Regions from separate parts of the Homo sapiens genome. Here region 1 is linked to region 2. The links come from fine-mapping of genetic effects on gene expression. A gene starts in region 2. The other region holds a variant in brackets. All regions are shown on one strand. Distances are between the middles of the regions. Region 1 has its middle 42 kb from the start of MIR6843. Region 2 holds the start of CHRNA2 (cholinergic receptor nicotinic alpha 2 subunit).

Evidence for each region.
Region 1: its variant is fine-mapped to the expression of CHRNA2 in cerebellar hemisphere (GTEx, PIP 0.99). The same link has a PIP of 0.9 or more in cerebellum.

What each region holds. Positions count from the first base shown.
Region 1 is chr8:27,564,584-27,573,297 of GRCh38, reverse strand. No RefSeq gene overlaps it. Among named protein-coding and RNA genes, the nearest start is that of MIR6843, 42 kb to the left of the region's middle. The variant A/T (reference allele first, on the strand shown) is at 4,738.
Region 2 is chr8:27,475,153-27,483,866 of GRCh38, reverse strand. CHRNA2 (cholinergic receptor nicotinic alpha 2 subunit) reads left to right here and starts at 4,606. Exons shown (of 7, transcript NM_000742.4): 1 at 4,606-5,043.

The DNA.
Region 1 (8,714 bases), 89 kb before region 2:
CAGGGTTTTGGCACCTTTCTTGTTGAAAGAGGTCCTGCCACCCATCTTTTCCTGGCTTGTGATGGTCATTCACCCCTCACCCTGCCCAATGCCCCACTCCAGCTGTTCTCACAGAGAGAGGTCAGCAATGGCTGTGAATAATCAGCTCCGGGTGTGGGTCCCTGATTCCCTGCAGCATTGACGCCTCCATCCTGGGCACCCAGCACCATTGCTTCCAGAGCACCGCCCTCCTATGGTCCTCAGTCTTCTCTCACCATCCCCTTTGTTTCCTTCATGGCAGCCTCTGCGTCCTCTCACCCGTGGAATGCTCCTGTCCTCGAAGGCCCTCTTGTCACCCAAACCCATTCTCCCTGGGTGTCCCCTCCACTCTTGCGGTCACTTGTCTTGGAGCTGATGACCCTTGTTATGGCCTGAACTGTGCCTCCTCCAAAGTCCTACGTTGAGTTCCTAACCCCTGGCACCTCAGAATGTGACTGTCTTTGGAGACTGTGTCTTTAAAGAGGTGATTAGGGTTCAGTGAGGTCATATGAAGGGGCCCTAATCCAATGTGACTGGTGTCCTTATAGGAACAGGAGATTAGGAACATAGGCACACAGAGAGATGACCATGTGAGGACACAGGAAGAAAGTGGCCATGTGCAAGCCAAGGAGAGAGGCTCAGGAGAAACCAACCCTGCCAGCACCTTCACCTTGAACTTCTTACCTCCAGAACCACAAGGGAATAAATATCTGCTGTTGAAGCTGCCCAGCCTGTGGTATTTGCTATGGCCTCTCTAGCTGGTGAATATGACATCTCAATCTGTACCTCCAGCCCCTGAGTTCCTGAACTTCAAAGCAGCTGCTCCGACACTTCCGCTTGAGACCCCTCGAACTCAAGTTCCCAAAGGAAACAATCACCTTGTTGCCCCTGCCGAGCCTCCTGGATTCTCTACTGATGGTGGCCCCATCATCCTTGACTCTTCCTTCCTGCCACCTCACCACACACTCAGCTGCCGAGTCCTGTTGGTTCCTCATCCTAAATACCTCTTGAACATGGACCCTGAGAAAATGGACTTGGCTCTGTATTCCAGCCCCTAGGATCCTCTCCAGGCCATGCTCACTCTGCCCAGCCTCGTCCACACCTCCTTCCCATGTTCCGGACTTGAGGCATGGTCTTTGCCTCGGCCGTCTCTGCCAGGCTTGAATTATTTCTTTAGCTCCTGGGTAGGCCCTCTGCACTGGATACTGCCTTCAACTTCAAGCCCCAAGGGCAGGCTGGCTCCTCTGCTGGTCCTGGAGGCCCAGCTCTAAGGCTGAAGTTCCTTCACGAGTCCACGCGCAGAGCTTAACCTCAGTGCACAGACCAAGACGGGCTGCTCTGGGACCCCTCGCTGCATGCTATTTCCATAATTCCCTGTATGTTAGAAACCGTTTAACTGAGAAAGGCTGGTGTACTTGGTTCAGAGACAGCAGGAATGAGCCAAGCAAAAGACCTATTATCACTTCTGCAGCCAGTCCAGTCCAGGCCAGAAGGACCCTGAAGGGCAGAGATGACGGCAGGAGCTGCTGAGGGGGAGAGATGCAGGCTGTCCTGGAGGGGACTGTTGAGGAGAAGAAAGGGTCACTGGGCTGCCCAGCACAGGCCTGACAAAGGTCCCTCCCTGGGTTGCACCTCTGTGGGAGTCCCTGCCACATTCTGCTGCATAGCCAGGAGGGAGCGTTCACTCCTGACAGGCAGAGAGGGGAAAGGCCACGATCAACAGAGGCATGAGGGCTGGAGGAAAATCTCTTCCGTCTTCATGGTGGGAGCTCAGAATGGTATTTCATGGCTCTCAAGGTGAGCCCATGGGTCATATGAGCCCCAAATGCCAAATCCACAATCCCTCTCAATCAGCATGCCTGGCACTGGGCAGAATATGAAAATGCCTTTTAAACCCTGTTTGGTGTGAACAAGTGGCCTTGGTGAACCCCTTGGCACTGCTCTGAGGGACTGTGGCTGGTTGAAGCACACCCAAGGTCACCCCAAAAAGCTCAGAGTCTGGGACGGCTCCAGGTGGAGCCGTGTGGGCCAGTGAACATCCAGCCTCCCTTCCTCATTCCAGTGTCCTCCTCCCTGCCCCTTTCCTCACGGGGCTCCCTGGCTCAGGCATGCCTTTTCAAAGCCCAACAATTCTACGGAATGCTCTTGTCCTGAACTTGCCCCACTCTCTTGGGCTAAGACATCAGGCATCTCATTTGCTGAATGATTTCTGCAGGCCCAGCATTGGCACCTCAGGGATCCATGCTGTACCCCGGGAACTGTGGAATCACTTTTTCAACCACCAGTTGGGAGTTCTGGGTAAAGATTTTCCCCAAACTCATGCCTCTGAGGAGGGGGCTTCTGGAGTGAAGGTCTTTGCCCCAAGTCTTAAAGTATTAGAAATTCCAGTGGGAAGGATTTTAGACTGGGGGCTAGAAAACAAGTTTCTGTTTGTCACCTACTGAGTGCCATGCGGGGCATGTTTGAACACTAAACTAGATGCTTTACATGTATTATCTGGCTTAATCCTCAGATTCAATACTTTAAGGTAGACATTATTAACACTCTCCGTAGATGAGGAAACTAAGGCTCAGCAGGATTAAATGACTGGCACACGCTCACAGCTTAGGAATTGCAGAGCCAGCATTCAAAATTGGGTTCATTTGATTTCAAAGCCCATGATCTTCATCTTCTTGAGTCAGTACTGCTCAAATTATTGCCAACTCCATCTGCACAGAGGATCTGCTCATATTGAATCCTTATTCAATATGACTAGAGAAGAGCCCAAACTTCAAGGAACTTGAAACCATAGATTTGAGTCCTATGGCTTAGTGAATATGAAGAATGGATCTAGGATTCCAGGCACTTCAGGTATGCTGCATACCACCCACCCATCCATCCATCTCTTCATCTATCTATCCATCCATCATCCATTCTCCCATCTCTTCATCCGTCCATCCATCCCTTCATCCATCCAACCATCCATCCATCATCCATCCTTCCCTTTATCCATCCAGCTATCCATCCATCCATCCATCCGTCCATCCATCCATCCATCCATCCCTTCATCCATCCATGCATCCATCCCTTCATCCATCCCTTCATCCATCCATCCATCCATTTGTCCATCCATCCATCCCTTCATTCATCCCTCAAACCAACCATCCATCCATCTATCCATCCCTTCATCCATCCATCCAACCATTCAACCATCCAGCTATCCATTCATCCACTCATCCCTTCATCCATCCATCCAACCATCCATCCATCCATCCCTCTAACCAACCAACCATCCATCCATCCATCCATCCATCCATCCCTTCATCCACCCATCCAACCATCCATCCATCTATCCACCCATCCATCCATCTATCCACCCATCCTTCCCTCCATCCATTCATCCATTCATCCATCCATCCCTTCATCCATCCCTCCAACCAACCAACCATCCATCCATCCATCCCTTCATCTATCCCTCCAACCAACCAACCATCCATCCATCCATTCATCCATCCATCCCTTCATCCATCCCTTCAACCAACCATCCATCCATCCATTCATCCATCCATCCCTTCATTCATCCCTCCAACCAACCAACCATCCATCTATCCATCCATCCATCCATCCCTTCATCCATTCAACCATCCATCCATCCATCAATCCATCCATCCGTCCCTTCATCCATCCCTTTATCTATCCCTCTACCCATCTAGTCCTTCATCCATCCATCCATCCATCCATTTGTCCATACAACACTGTTTTTCATTCATTCAAAAAGCACTGCTATAAATTACAAGCCCCCCGTTATCCAGATCCAAATACCCTGCATGTCACCTTAAGCAGCCAAATAAGCCTGAAAATGACTCCACCCACCTTGCTGTGAAGAAACCATTATAAAGGGAATCCCAGGCATATCCTCTGGGGCTCAGTGCAGCTGAGGGTTAATGCCCTCCCAGGAGCGGCAGCTCACACCAGCCTCATGTCTCCTGTGGCAAGTCTCTACTCAACCCCTTTTCCTGCCCATGCCTCTGCTACCTCCTGCAGTTCCTCCAGGTTCACTGACCTGCTCAGAAGGGTCCTGGCCACAGTGTCCCCAGGGCCAAGGAAAGGGTGGTGAGGTCATCTCCCTTGCCCCAATTCAGGGGGCCTGAAGAGCCAGGGTCTACTGTCACAACCTGAGGGGTCTCATTGTCATGGGAAAGAACAGTAGAGATGGGGAAAGGGAGGCTATGCTTAAGTGGGCATCAGTTCCCCACAGGGGGTGGGCCCAACACTGCATGAGGGGACCTGGGTTATCCTCCCAGAACCGCTGCCCATGCACCCTGTGGGCCTCACAGTCAGGATGCAGCAAGGCCTCCTCTGCCCAGGGCAGCTCTAAGAGGAGACTAGGCTTCAAGGAGCCATGGGTTCCTGGGGGAAGGGCCTTGGGAAGACAAAATGAGGATGTGTGTGCATCTGGGGTCAGGCCAGCCCAGGAGCCAGGGTCCCAGGCACTTCTCTGCCTATTGCTTTTCCTGGGCAATGTGTTGGCCAAGCTGTCCCTCCCCTCATCCACGTGCCCATCCACCTTCGGAACTAGATCCTCCTATTCAGCCACACCCAGCCAGATGTCTTTGGGTTTCTGCAAAGACCAGGGTGCCCAGTGGAAATCTGATGACTGACTTCTACACCTTCCCCTGGCATCTCCAGAGGAAACCTCTCTTGACGCTGTTTAAGCACTTCACACTCCGCTACCTGCTA[A/T]TTTTGATGGAAATTGCTTTTGACATGTGCAGTTGGTGGCCAGGAGCTTGGGGTGAGAGAACACATAAAGCTGAACTAATTCTCATTAACAGTGAGCAAAGACCAGAGATAGGAAATTGGCAGAAATGGGGCACCTGGGGAGCAGGGTGAGGGCATCAGAATGAGTTTTACAAAAGCTAGCTTTTGTCTAAGATCCAGGGAAGCAAATGAGAGCTGGCCTGCAAAACACTTCCACAGGATCCAGAAACCAATGCGCAACAGGCACTGTCTTTGCTAGCTGTATGACCTCGGGTGTGTTATTCAGCCTGTTTCCTCGTTTGTAAAATGGAGATAATAGTTATAACTATTGAGGTGAGGATAAAATGAGGGAATATCAGGGTAAGTTGTGAAAAAAAACAGCAGCCCCTTCCACTGGCTTCCAGACCTGCTCAGCTGGGCTCCTAAGAAAAGCCAGAAACTCTTGTGTGTATTTTGATCTGTGGCCACTCAATGACTTTCTTTTTCTTTTTTTTTATTATTTTTTTATTTTTTGAGATGGAGTTTTGCTCTTGTTGCCCAGGCTAGAGGTGAGATCTCGGCTCACTGCAACCACTGTCTCCCAGGTTCAAGCGATTCTCCTGCCTCAGGCTCCCGAGTAGCTAGGATTACAGGTGTCTGCCACCACACCCGGCTAATTTTTTGTATTTTTAGTAGAGTCGGGGTTTCACCATGTTGGCCAGACCGGCTTCGAACTTCTGACTGCAGGTGGTCCGCCCGCCTCGGCCTCCCAAAGTGCTGGGATTACAGGTGAGCCACTGCGCCCAGCCTCAATGACATTCATACTTTGCTGATCATTTTGTAGAAACTGAGGCAACCGATTTGACATAAGTCCTGGATAGTGGACTAGGACTGGGGCCAAATCTTGAGGAAGGGGGTGGCTCTCATGTCATCCTTCACCCTCAGTTACCACTGGGCTCCCTCGGGCAGTGAACCCAGCTTTGAGGAGGAAATGAGAATGTCCATGCTGGGCTCTGGGGAATCAGGACCCACACATCCCTCTATGCTTTGCTGCAAAGCCTCTTACCTGGGAGGGCGCAAGAATGATGGATGCGAATGGCCTCAGTCCTTCCCCTTCCGCAGCCCCATCCCCTCAGATGCTCCCGTCTTGCCTGGTGATTTTTTGAGGATTTTGTGATGAAAAGAGGGAGGAGGAGAAGGGCAAGGAGCAACGAGGGTGTGTATGTGATGCCCAAGAGAAAGCAGAGTGAGTTTTAAGGAGCAGTCACTGGGAATTAGGTTTCCCTTCACAGAATTCAAGAAATACAAATAAAAACAAAGTGCATCCCTTAGAAATTGCTTTTGGGCTGTTTTTATTTATTTACTAGAGACAGGGTCTCACTCCGTAGCCCAGGCTGGAGTGCAGTGGCGTGATCTCAGCTCACTGCACTCACTCTCCTGGGCTCAAGTGATCCTCCCACCTCGGCCTCCCAAGCTGGGACTACAGGCATGTGCCACCACACCTGGCTAATATTTAAATTTTTTTTTTTTTTTTTTTTGGTAGAGACGGGTTTTTGCCATATTGGCCAGGCTGATCTCGAACTCCGGGGCTCAAGTGATCTGCCCACCTCAGCCTCCCAAATCCTGGGATTACATGCATGAGCCACCATGCCCAGACTTGGGCTGTTTGCTTTTGGTCTCAGTGCTGCTCTGAGCCTGGACTACCTGGGGTCAAACTCCTAGAAGTCAGTCAGACAGTGTTTGCTTGGCTGCTTGCCTTCATCAGAACCCCTGGAGAAGGCAGGGTATGCTTAGTTGAGAGGAAACGTATGCAGAACCAAGAGGAAATTTGTGTAGTCGAGAGGAAACTTAGATGACCCATGTGGTCTAACCCCTGGCAATGCTGAAGCTTCTAAGTCAGCACCAAGTGTGGGCTCTGGAAAAGGGCTTGTCTTATAAGCAAAACCATCATAAACACTTATTGGGCACTAACTGTATACACTCTTCTAAGTCCCTCACATGCATGGCTATCATGAGCATTCCTATTTTCCAGGTAAGCAAACTGAGGTAGCCAGAGGTAAAGAGACCTGCCCCAGGTTACACAGACAATAGTGGTGGAGCCCCAGCACTTAGCCATGATGCTCCAGGGGCCAAAGCCACATGGCCCCTAGTGCAAATGGGCTCATACAGGAGAAAGAAAGCACAGCTGAGTGTGTGCACCACTGCACCAGCACAGGAGTGTCTTGTACGTCTCCGACAAATGAGCAGCCAGCCTCTGCAAGCACCCCAGCAGCCTGCTCCAGGGAGGCCCAGCCTGGCAGAGAGGAAGCCCCTCCTAATATTGAAAGCTCAAGGTGACTGCCCTCCAAAGGGTGGCTCCTGACACAGGCATCCGCTGAATTGTCCTCTGGTTGGCCACACATGTAACATGTGCTATCTAAGTTCCTCTTCAACGAGTTGAGGATTGCTCTCCCCATTGGGGGTGATGCTTTTTTACAGGGATGTCCAGAGAAGCTAAGCAACCAAATGTGCATTCCACACCCAGTGAGTGGTGGAGCCAGGCTTTGAACCCAGGGCTGAGTCCCAGACCTGTGCTCTTAACCAGTTCCCCAAATGGTCTCTTGTGAAGTGTAAGAAATGCTTTTTAATGACTATAAGGTAGGGGTTCCAGGTCCACAAGCACTGGGCTCCTATCCTGACCCCTCCCTGCACCTGCTAACCTGGACAGCCCCATCCCCTGCACAGCTCTGGCTCAGATCTTCAGTGGAGATGGCACCCCTTCCCTGCACCCCATCCCTGCCCATCCCTTCCCACAGGGTGGCAGTGAAGCTCCTAAGAGACGAAGGTGGGAGGGCACTGTGCAACTGTCAGAGCACCGACATGCAGCAGGGTCCCTTCCTCATCGTGACTGTCAGCCAGAGAAGGCAGTGACATACCTGGAGGGCACCTGTTGCATCTCTGCCAAAGGGGGCCAGCTGGGCTGGGTATGAGGCCCCCACAGAGCTGAGCCAGCACTGCAGGGGAAGCAGGTGGACTCACCTGGCTGGCCGGGGTGCCAGGCCTGATTCCCATGTTTTGCATTCCAGACCCAACGACGCCAGCTGCAGTCACATCTACCACTATGCCCAGGCTGGGCTCAGCAAGAAGCAAAAAGGACACAAGAGACCAGTTAGGCTTCCCGGGGCAGCAGGCACACTCCCAGGCACATCAGATTGAGGTGCGAGGCCCCTCAGGGCAGAAAAGTTTATTCAGTGCTGTCTGGGTTCTCATCCCAAATCTGCTATGACTTAGCTTGTGTGATGTGGCCTGCCTGTCTTCTCTCGGGGTCTCAGTTTCCTCATCTAAGTGGCCTGTTAGATGACCCAGTGGCGACATGGTTCAGGGCTGAGGGGAGGCCTGCCTGCCTGGCTCTGGGGGCCTCTGCAGCCCACAACACCCCTTTCTTCCTTTCCTCCAACCTCCATCTGCCAACAATAAATACCCTCTCCACAAACCAAAGGCCAAAATTCTCCTGCTAAGACTTCTCTTAGGTACCCAGCCTACCAAGGCCTGCAACATCCTCATGGAACCAGCCTGGTTCAGATCTCACAAATAAACATCCCAGAAAGGTTTGGGGAGATGAGAAAGGAGGAGGAGGAGGCCCTGTCACCTCTCCTGCTCAGAAACCTTCAGGGGCTCCAGGAGAAAGGCCTCATCCCTCAGCCTGGCGTTCCAGGCCCTAGAAGGAATAATGGGAGGCTTCCATGTGCACAGGAGGACAAGATCATGAAAGGAATCCTGTATCCCTTGGCAGGCGTGCACCATGGGGGCAGGAATTAGAAAGACCTGCCGATCTCAAGGTCAAGGACGAAGAGCGGATCAGGAGTTTAAAAAATCTTACTTCCCAGGAACTTTCTGAGTCATCTCAGCCCTAACTTAAAGGAGAAGGAAACAGATATTTTCTGAAGACCTCCAAGGGCTCAGGTGCCTGGAGCTTCACAAGCTGTGAGACAGCTTCCCCA
Region 2 (8,714 bases):
TGACTGGAAGAAATGAGACTTCAAGAATTGGGGGGCCAGACACGGTGGCTCATGCCTGTAATCCCAGCACTTTGGGAGTCGAGGCGGGCAGATCATCTGATATCGGGAGTTTAAGACCAGCCTGACCAACGTGGTGAAACTCCATCTCTACTAAAAATACAAAATTAGCCGGATATTGTGGCGCATGCCCGTAATCCCAGTGACTCGGGAGGCTGAGGCAGGAGAATCGCTTGAACTCGGGAGGCAGAGGTTGTGCTGAGCCGAGATCGCACCATGGCACTCCAGCCTGGGCAGCAAGAGCGAAACTCCATCTCAACAGCAACAGCAACAACAACAAAATGAATTGGGAAGGTTTCCATGATAAATGCCATGGAGCCTTCCTTACCAATGAAAAATGTTTCTCTTTCTCTGCCTGATGAGCCTGTTCCTGCCTAAGCTGAAAATCCTGTCACATCCTTGCCTGAAGGATACACCACACACCCCAGGTAAACCAGTTTTCTTCATGATCCACCCCCTCCCTGCCTCTAGACTTCAACTAGAGTCAGATCCCTACATGTCCTGGCAGGTGGGGCATGGGAAAACCTGAGAAGAAACGTAAAACACACCCCAAGTCTGCAAGATTCTGCTTGTTTGTGGTCACAATCTGGTGAATATACACAGGAATAGACTCTTGAGGTCCTAGACCAAGGACAGAAAGTTGAAGTGGAGTTTGGCTGACAGGGGTGTGCTTTCTAAAGATTTGGGTTTAGTCTACAAAGTCGAACAGCTGGAGAAAGTACTCACAGTTTGCTCAACTGGTAGTCCATGCAAAGTGAAGATGAGATACCAGAAATTAGTTCAATGTAATGGAAGACTTGGAGGAACAGGAATATTGGAATGGATTTCTTAATATATGACCTGCTCGCCTTCCTCCTGATGTGGAAGGACTCATCAGAGACCTCTTTTTCCAAGACCTTGAGAGGTGCATTGGTGAGGAAGAACCATCATCTCAATTACAGGAAAGTGCAGGAAGTGGTTTGAACCTTCAGTCCGAAGGTTAGAGTTAGGGAAACTTCTCAGTGCATGGCTGTATTAGTCCATCCTCACATTGCTGTAAATACCTGAGACTGGGTAATTTATAAAGAAAAGAGTCTTAATTGGCTCACGGTTTGCAGGCTGTACAGGAAGCATGGCTGGGGAGGCCTCAGGAAACTTACGGTTATGGCAGAAAGCAAAGGGGAAGCAGGCACGTCTTCACATTGCTACAACAGAAGGAAGAAGAGAGAAGGGGGAGATTCTACACTCTCTTAAACACCAGATCCTGTGAGAACTCACTCACTATCATGAGAAGAGCAAGGGAGAAATCCACCCTTACGATCCAGTCACCTTCCACCACACCCCACCTCCAACATTGGGGATTACAATTTAACACGCGATTTAGGTGGCAACACAAATCCAAACCTATCAATGGCACATGTCCATCATCTGTCTGCTGAAGGAGGAAGCAAGAGGAAGCTGTGTAGTGCCCCCTACCTAACAAAACCATAAATGCAATTAATACAATGTCTCCAGAGGAATCCCAAGGATTAGGGCCACCAGCAAAGGCTGTAAGGATGCAGAAGTGGTAATTTTGATGATCTCCAAATGCTACCTAAGGTAGATGGGTCTCATAGAATGTCAGTGGTTCATTGTAAACTTAAGTGATTCCGATTACAGAAGCTGTTCCCAATGTGGCCCGAATGCTCATCTTCCCAGCAGTAGTGGCAAACCCTGGTCTCTGGATGTGCTGGCAGAGCCCAGAGGTTCAAATTATTCACTTGGTGGCAAGTTGATTGTAGTGAATGCCTTATATGCTTGAGAAGGCAGCAATCTGGCTTTTGTGGAATACAGTAGATGCTTATTCTGGAGAATGGCTGGAGAGGAAACCAATACATACCCACTCTAACCTCATGATCTATTACTACAATGAGCACTGTACCTGTCTGTATTTTCTTACTGGCTTTGCTAATTTATTTCATATTCTGCCCACCCCATTACTTTCTATGTGTGTATTTTGAGTGAACGTTATGATTTATTCCATAGAAAACAGAATTTCAAGGTGGCACATGTGTCAGGAATTAGAGCAGGAGGCTGGACTTGGAGCTGGATGGTCACTGGTGAGACTTGGGGTTCTATCCCTGTGGAGTTAGGGTGGGGTTAGGGGGAGGCTTTTTGCTTGTGTGAGGAATGGTTGCATTCTGCTAGATTCTACATTTGTATGTTTGGCATCCACTATATGCACGGCCAAACTAACAGCCAACTTTGTTACATCTCCCCTGCAATCAGCTTTTGCAGGTGCACTACAGTTATAGTACAAGCCCTCTGCCTAATCTTGACTCAGTATCCCCAACAGCACCATTTGTCTAACTCTCACACACCGAGCCAGTATTCCTCCTGCCACAAATCACCTCAGAGCTAGGTACTGGGCAATTAGAGACCATCCCTATAGCTCAGAGCCCACCAAGATTATTCCAACTATCTCATCGCAAGCTGCTTCCTTGCACTGCCCTGGTTTTCCCGGGGAAACCTCATAAAGGCTCGGGGCCAGGCTTCCCACATTGTGCCCTCCACCTCCTGACACTCCCTGGTGCTGCTCTGTGTGGCCCTGCGGGAATGTGCCACCCCTCCTGTTTCTAGGGATCTGTGAGTATAAACTCCTTCCTTTATGACAGTCACTTCTGTGTCTGCATGTCTTACCAAACCTGATTAAAACAAATTCTGGGTGAAAATTTTAGGACAATTAGATGTAAACATTTTTTTTCAAAGTGTGATGATGGAAAGTCGAGTGTGCACTGATGTTAGGAGCCAAAGAGCTAGATTTCGTGTGGCGGGGAGGGGGGTGCTTTCCAGCATTGAAACAACTTTCAAATATTTCAGGAATGTCCCCCCTCTTGAAGTGGGCAGAGCCCACCTTCCACATAGAAGCTCAAAACCCCAGATTCCTGCTTCCTTGGCCTTCCTGGCATCTGGTTTGGGAGCACATGCTTTAATCAGATGCATCTGTTTCGACCTTTGTATGCAGAGCTAGTGACACAAAGGAGCAGGGCTGGAGGAGAATTAACTGTGGCAGCGGTGGCAGCAGCAGGGATGGCTGCTTCCAGGGACAGCGGTGACAGCGGCACCCATGACGGTGCCAGGTTCACATGCAGCTCTGTAGCAGCAGGACCCACCATGCTGGCCGCGGGGCAGAGGCTTCCCTCTTCTCCCTGCTCTCCAAGCAGCCCCTCCAGATTTCTAGGTGCTTCTGTGAACCACCCGTTGTTCCTCAATAAAACCATTCTCCACTTAAAGTAATTGGTAGGTTTTTATTGCTTGCAACCAAGAATCCTGATGGATACAAGCTGTGATTTTCTTTTCTTTTCTTTCCTTTCCTTTCCTTTCTTTTCTTTTTTCTTATTTCTTCCCTCCTTCCCTTCCTTCCTTCCTTCAGTCTCCAAATGAAAAATGTATACATCTAACTTTATATATATGTAAATATGGTAAAATATTAACATTTATTAATTATGAATAGTGGAAATATGAGTGTTTATGGTTTTTTGGTATTTTATGTCTTTTAATTCTCTCAAAAGATGATTCTAGCAATCGCATGCACATGTGTACACACAATGCACGTGTGTGTTTGTGTTTATTTGTGCTAATTGACTCCTCATAGTAAACCTATGAGGCAGGAGCCATTGTTCACATCCTCTTTTTACATCTGAGGAAACTGAGGCATAGGAAGCTGAAGAGGCCTGTCCAGGATTATGCAGCTGTTCAAGAGCAGAGCTAGAAATTCAGCCTCAGCAGTCTGTGGCCGGGTCATGTCCAGGGCCTTTGCTTTTAACAAAATAAGGGAGATGAGCTAGCAAGTAGCTTGAGGGAAAGGCCGAAAGCAGAGTGTTTTTAGGGTGGAGGATGAGCTTCTTTAGGGGCTGAAGGGAAGGAACGAGTGGGGCAGAGAGGGAGGATCTGAGAAAGCCCAGGCTGTTAATAGATGGGGTGATGTCAAGATCACAGTGGGCCAGGATTCGCCATGCACAGGAGGAGACAGGAGTACTCATCTGATACTAGAGAAAAGGAGGCTTCACCGGAAAATCAAAGGCAAGGTCACCTGCAAGGAGGCTGACGGGGTGACAGAGAAGCAGCCACACCGGGTGGCCGCGCAAGTGACCGGTGGTCCTCTAGGGTGGTGGGGGGAGGGGTCTCACAGGGGAGGAGGGCAAGGAGAGAACCGTGGGCTGGCTGGCAGCTCTGTCCTTACTCCAATTTTTCCGATGCTATTTACTGACTTAGAAGGTAAATACATTCCAAGGTTCTTCAAGTTCTTTACAGCTGGGCTTGTTCCAAGGCTGGAATTTGTGAAGTGGATTCACATACAGTGAAGCTGTATTGACAGACAGACCCAGGACCCAGGACCCAGAACCTGTGGGTGCACTCAGGGGCCCCAGGCAGTGATCCTGGAGCCCAGGGGTCCAGAGAGCAGGGAAGGGAGCATCGTGGTGACTGGACAGAGCTGCATCTGTCCCCACCGGACATAGGCTGGAGAGTCACAGGCTCCTCCTCCTTCCCCTCCAGAGAGGCTGTGTGTGTGTGTGTGTGTGTGTATGTGTGTGTGTGTGTGAGAGAGAGAGAGAACAGCGTGAGCCTGTGTGCTTGTGTGCTGAGCCCTCATCCCCTCCTGGGGCCAGGCTTGGGTTTCACCTGCAGAATCGCTTGTGCTGGGCTGCCTGGGCTGTCCTCAGTGGCACCTGCATGAAGCCGTTCTGGCTGCCAGAGCTGGACAGCCCCAGGAAAACCCACCTCTCTGCAGAGCTTGCCCAGCTGTCCCCGGGAAGCCAAATGCCTCTCATGTAAGTCTTCTGCTCGACGGGGTGTCTCCTAAACCCTCACTCTTCAGCCTCTGTTTGACCATGAAATGAAGTGACTGAGCTCTATTCTGTACCTGCCACTCTATTTCTGGGGTGACTTTTGTCAGCTGCCCAGAATCTCCAAGCCAGGCTGGTTCTCTGCATCCTTTCAATGACCTGTTTTCTTCTGTAACCACAGGTAAGAAAGGTACCCAAGGCTTATGTTGAGGGCGGCATGCATGTGGAGAGCTTGTGGATATGGGGTCAAAGAAATACTAGCAGTTTCTGGGTACTCAGGAGGGGGTTATGTCTGAATGCTGGATGTCACCTGCTCCTAGAAATATTTTAGTCTCCTGGTTGTCCCTGCTGGAGCTGTCCACAGCCAGGTGACGATGAACACCTCCTGGCTAGGATGGCTAGCCCAGTCTCAGGAATAGTGGCTTTGTTACACTGTATCTGCTCCTATGTCTTTACTACTGCTGTCCATTCTTTTGTTCATTTATTTACTCATTCTGTAAATTGTCTATGTCCTTTAAAAGGGCTAAAAGACAGCAATGCTATTTACTGACTTAGAAGGTAAATACCTTCCAAGGTTCTTCAAGTTCTTTACAGCTGGGCTTGTTCCAAGGCTGGCATTTGTGAAGTGGATTCCTCCATCAGCTGGTGTGGTTGTTCAGATGACCTTCAAGATCCCACCCAACCTTGAGTGTTAAACTTCTGTGATTGAGCAAAACAGATATAAAAGCTAGAATTACACTCTCTAGCCCCTAAGCACCTTGAGTGCATTTATTTGGAAGAAGAAATCATACTGGTTTCTCTAATGGAGGGGCTTCTTTGGGAGTGTAATGTTGCCAGTTGTGAAAAAGCTGAGACCTGTATGCTTGGGGAGGTTCTGGACAGCAGAAAGGAACCAGGTGGGATGGAAGCAGCCTTTTGGGAGAAGGAAATGTTAGTAAAAAGAGGAGAATGTGGACTGGTGGGTGAGAAGTTGAAAACAGAATTAGTAGAACCATGGACAGGGAAGTGAGCTCAAATCACCTTGACCTCCACGGAACCAGGATTCAGGCAGGCTAGAGATGCTGCAGTGAGTGTGGGGGTGGGGTGGGGGTGGCCTGGAACTGGTGTACGTGAGCAGCGACACAAGCCCAGTGGGGACACTGATGTCCGAGCACTTTACGTATGCAATCTCTTTTACATAGGCTTCTCTGTGTACCCCATTCACCCAGACCCACTTTACAATTAGGGACCTCATCCCACTCTCTCCCCTTCCCCAAATCTGCCAATCCAGCCACTTAGAGGGTCAAAGTGTGCAGCTCTTTTTTTTTTGACATCTTCCTAACCAGAGGTGGAAGTTCCCTCTAATTACTGTCAATCACCTGGAACAATTCCTCCTTTGGTTTCCAGTGACAAATTAAATGAAATGATATAGTGGGCTTATCACAGGGGATGCAGGTTTGAGGCATCTTGCTGGGAATACATCCTCTAGAGTCACTGCATCTTATTTGCACATTCTTCTGGGGGTTCCCGGGTGGCTCTCCTTGGATCTCTAAATGATGCAATGTTAGCATGCTTGGATTCCTATTCTCACTAATGGAGAAAAAAAAATCTCCTTTTTAAAAAATGCACTTGGTTAAAAGGTGAAACAGATGATAGCTTTGGAATTTGCAACTATGATATTGGTTGGCTGGATGAGAAAGTGAATCTGCACTAGAGGAACCTGCTAGAATCTGGGATCCAGGTGGGCCTAGCTTTGGGGTGAGGTGCCTGTCCCCTCTCCTCACTTGTCCTCAACAGACCTCAGTCCTGATGGTGGCTTAGCAATGACAGACACAGTGCTAGGGTCTACGGAACACAGGTGAGTACTGGCTGAATTGCTAATACGAAATCGCCCCCCTAGTTAACACCACGTTATAATTTATCGCATTCTAGTTTCGAAGCTAAAGATCTTAGCTTGAATCTCAGCTTTATCACTTTTTATCTATATGGCTTTGGTCAACTTCTCTGAACATCAGTTTTTTTTTTTTTTTACTTACATGAAAGGGATAATTATATCTCTTCCCCACACCCTCCTAGGGGTCACGTGAGGCCCAAATAGGTGAAAGCTGCAAAAGTACCTTGTAAACCTGAAAACAACATAAATGCACAGTGTTCTTAGGAAGACGTTTTAGGAATTAACATCAAGGGGGATTCTGAAATCCTCGTTCCCTGCCCCAAATCAGCCCTGTGTTCTAATATCTAGTAAAAACTTCACGCCTGTATGAAAGTAGACATAAGCAATGGAATTTCACAACTCTTTTTTATTTTAACTAGCAAATGAAACTTCTAGATGGCACTGAGCCACAGGTAAATGGGGAAGGGTGTGGGATCTTTGAGGATCCTAAATCCTCCAGGTAGAAAGGATGAAAGAGACAAGAGACAAGGAACCAGAAAGGCAGCTTTGTGATTGTCAGGTGTTTGAATGATTGCGGAGAGCAGAGAAAAAAACTTCACCTGCTCTGCAGTTTCCCCTGGGTATTAACGAGATTTAATCTCGGATAACAACACTAGGGTCTCTAAACTCAACTCAACACAACTCAAGCATCTCTCAGATGCTTATGCAGATTCAGACTCGAGGAAAAGCTTCCCAATGTGGAGAGTTGTAAAAAGCCTGGAAAGGATGCCTCAGGGAACTTGGGGCCTCCCTGGATGGCTTTGGAAGCAATGGGGCTAAATGAATAAAGTCATGCCCCACATTAGGGGTGGACGAGTGGATGAGACTCTAGCATTTTCCTTCCTTTTGGTTCTTCTCTACTCAAGCTCACTCAGTTCCCTGTTCCTAGTGCCTGGCACACTGTTGGCCCTGATGAAGAATGAGGTAGTACATTCTCTTACAGTCCAAGCATGAAACAACAACAACAACAAAATGAATGAGGTAGTGGAAAGATAAACAAAGAAAAGGATAAACAATCACACTATGAATGCAAATGTTTGATGCAGTGCTGCTCCCCAAATTAAGTGAGAAGCCTTAGTCTCCTTCCTCAGGCTCTTGGAGCCCTCCTCCTGCCCTGGGTACCTTTTGCAGGTAGCTCTGAACACCTGGAACCCACAAAGTAAGCTGGGGCTGTGCTTGGGGCTGGAGGGAAGAGGTGAATAAGATACAGTGGTCACCCTTAAGGAGTGACCTCACGACAGGAAGTTCCACTTTTCTCTGAAAGTCCCATTTGACCTTTCAGATCAATGTAGCGATCCCATTTCCTAGGCCTCAGCCCTAAGGTGATTCCAGATGAACACAGCTGACCTTTAAAAAGACTATTTTTGTGGTAAAATATACATAACATAATTTACCATAATAATGTAACCATTATTAACTGTATATAGTTCATCGTGTTAAGAACATTCACATTGTTGTGTAGACATCACCACTGTCCATCTGTAGATTTTTTTCATCATCCCAAATGAAACTCCGTACCCATTGAACAATAACTCCTCACTCCCCTCCCCCTAGCTCCTGGCACCCACCATTCTACTTTCTGTCTCTATGAATTTGACTATTCTAGGAACATCCTATAAAAGGAATCATAATGTCTTTGTCTTTTTGTAACTGGCTTATTTTACATAGCATAATGCCCTCAAGTTTCATCCACGTTGTAGCATGGGTCAGAATTTCTGTCCTTTTTAAGGACAAATAATATTCCACTGTATGGATAGACCACATTTGTTCAACCATTCATCTGTCGCTGGATACCGGAGTTGCTTCCACTTTTTACACAGCTGATTGATGAACTGCACTGCATTCTGATGGAAGAGTGGAGTCAAATCTACACAGTTTGGGTGAGCTCCTGCTGCTGTGAGATGAGGGGAGGGCTTGTAAAACACATCACAGGTATTGCT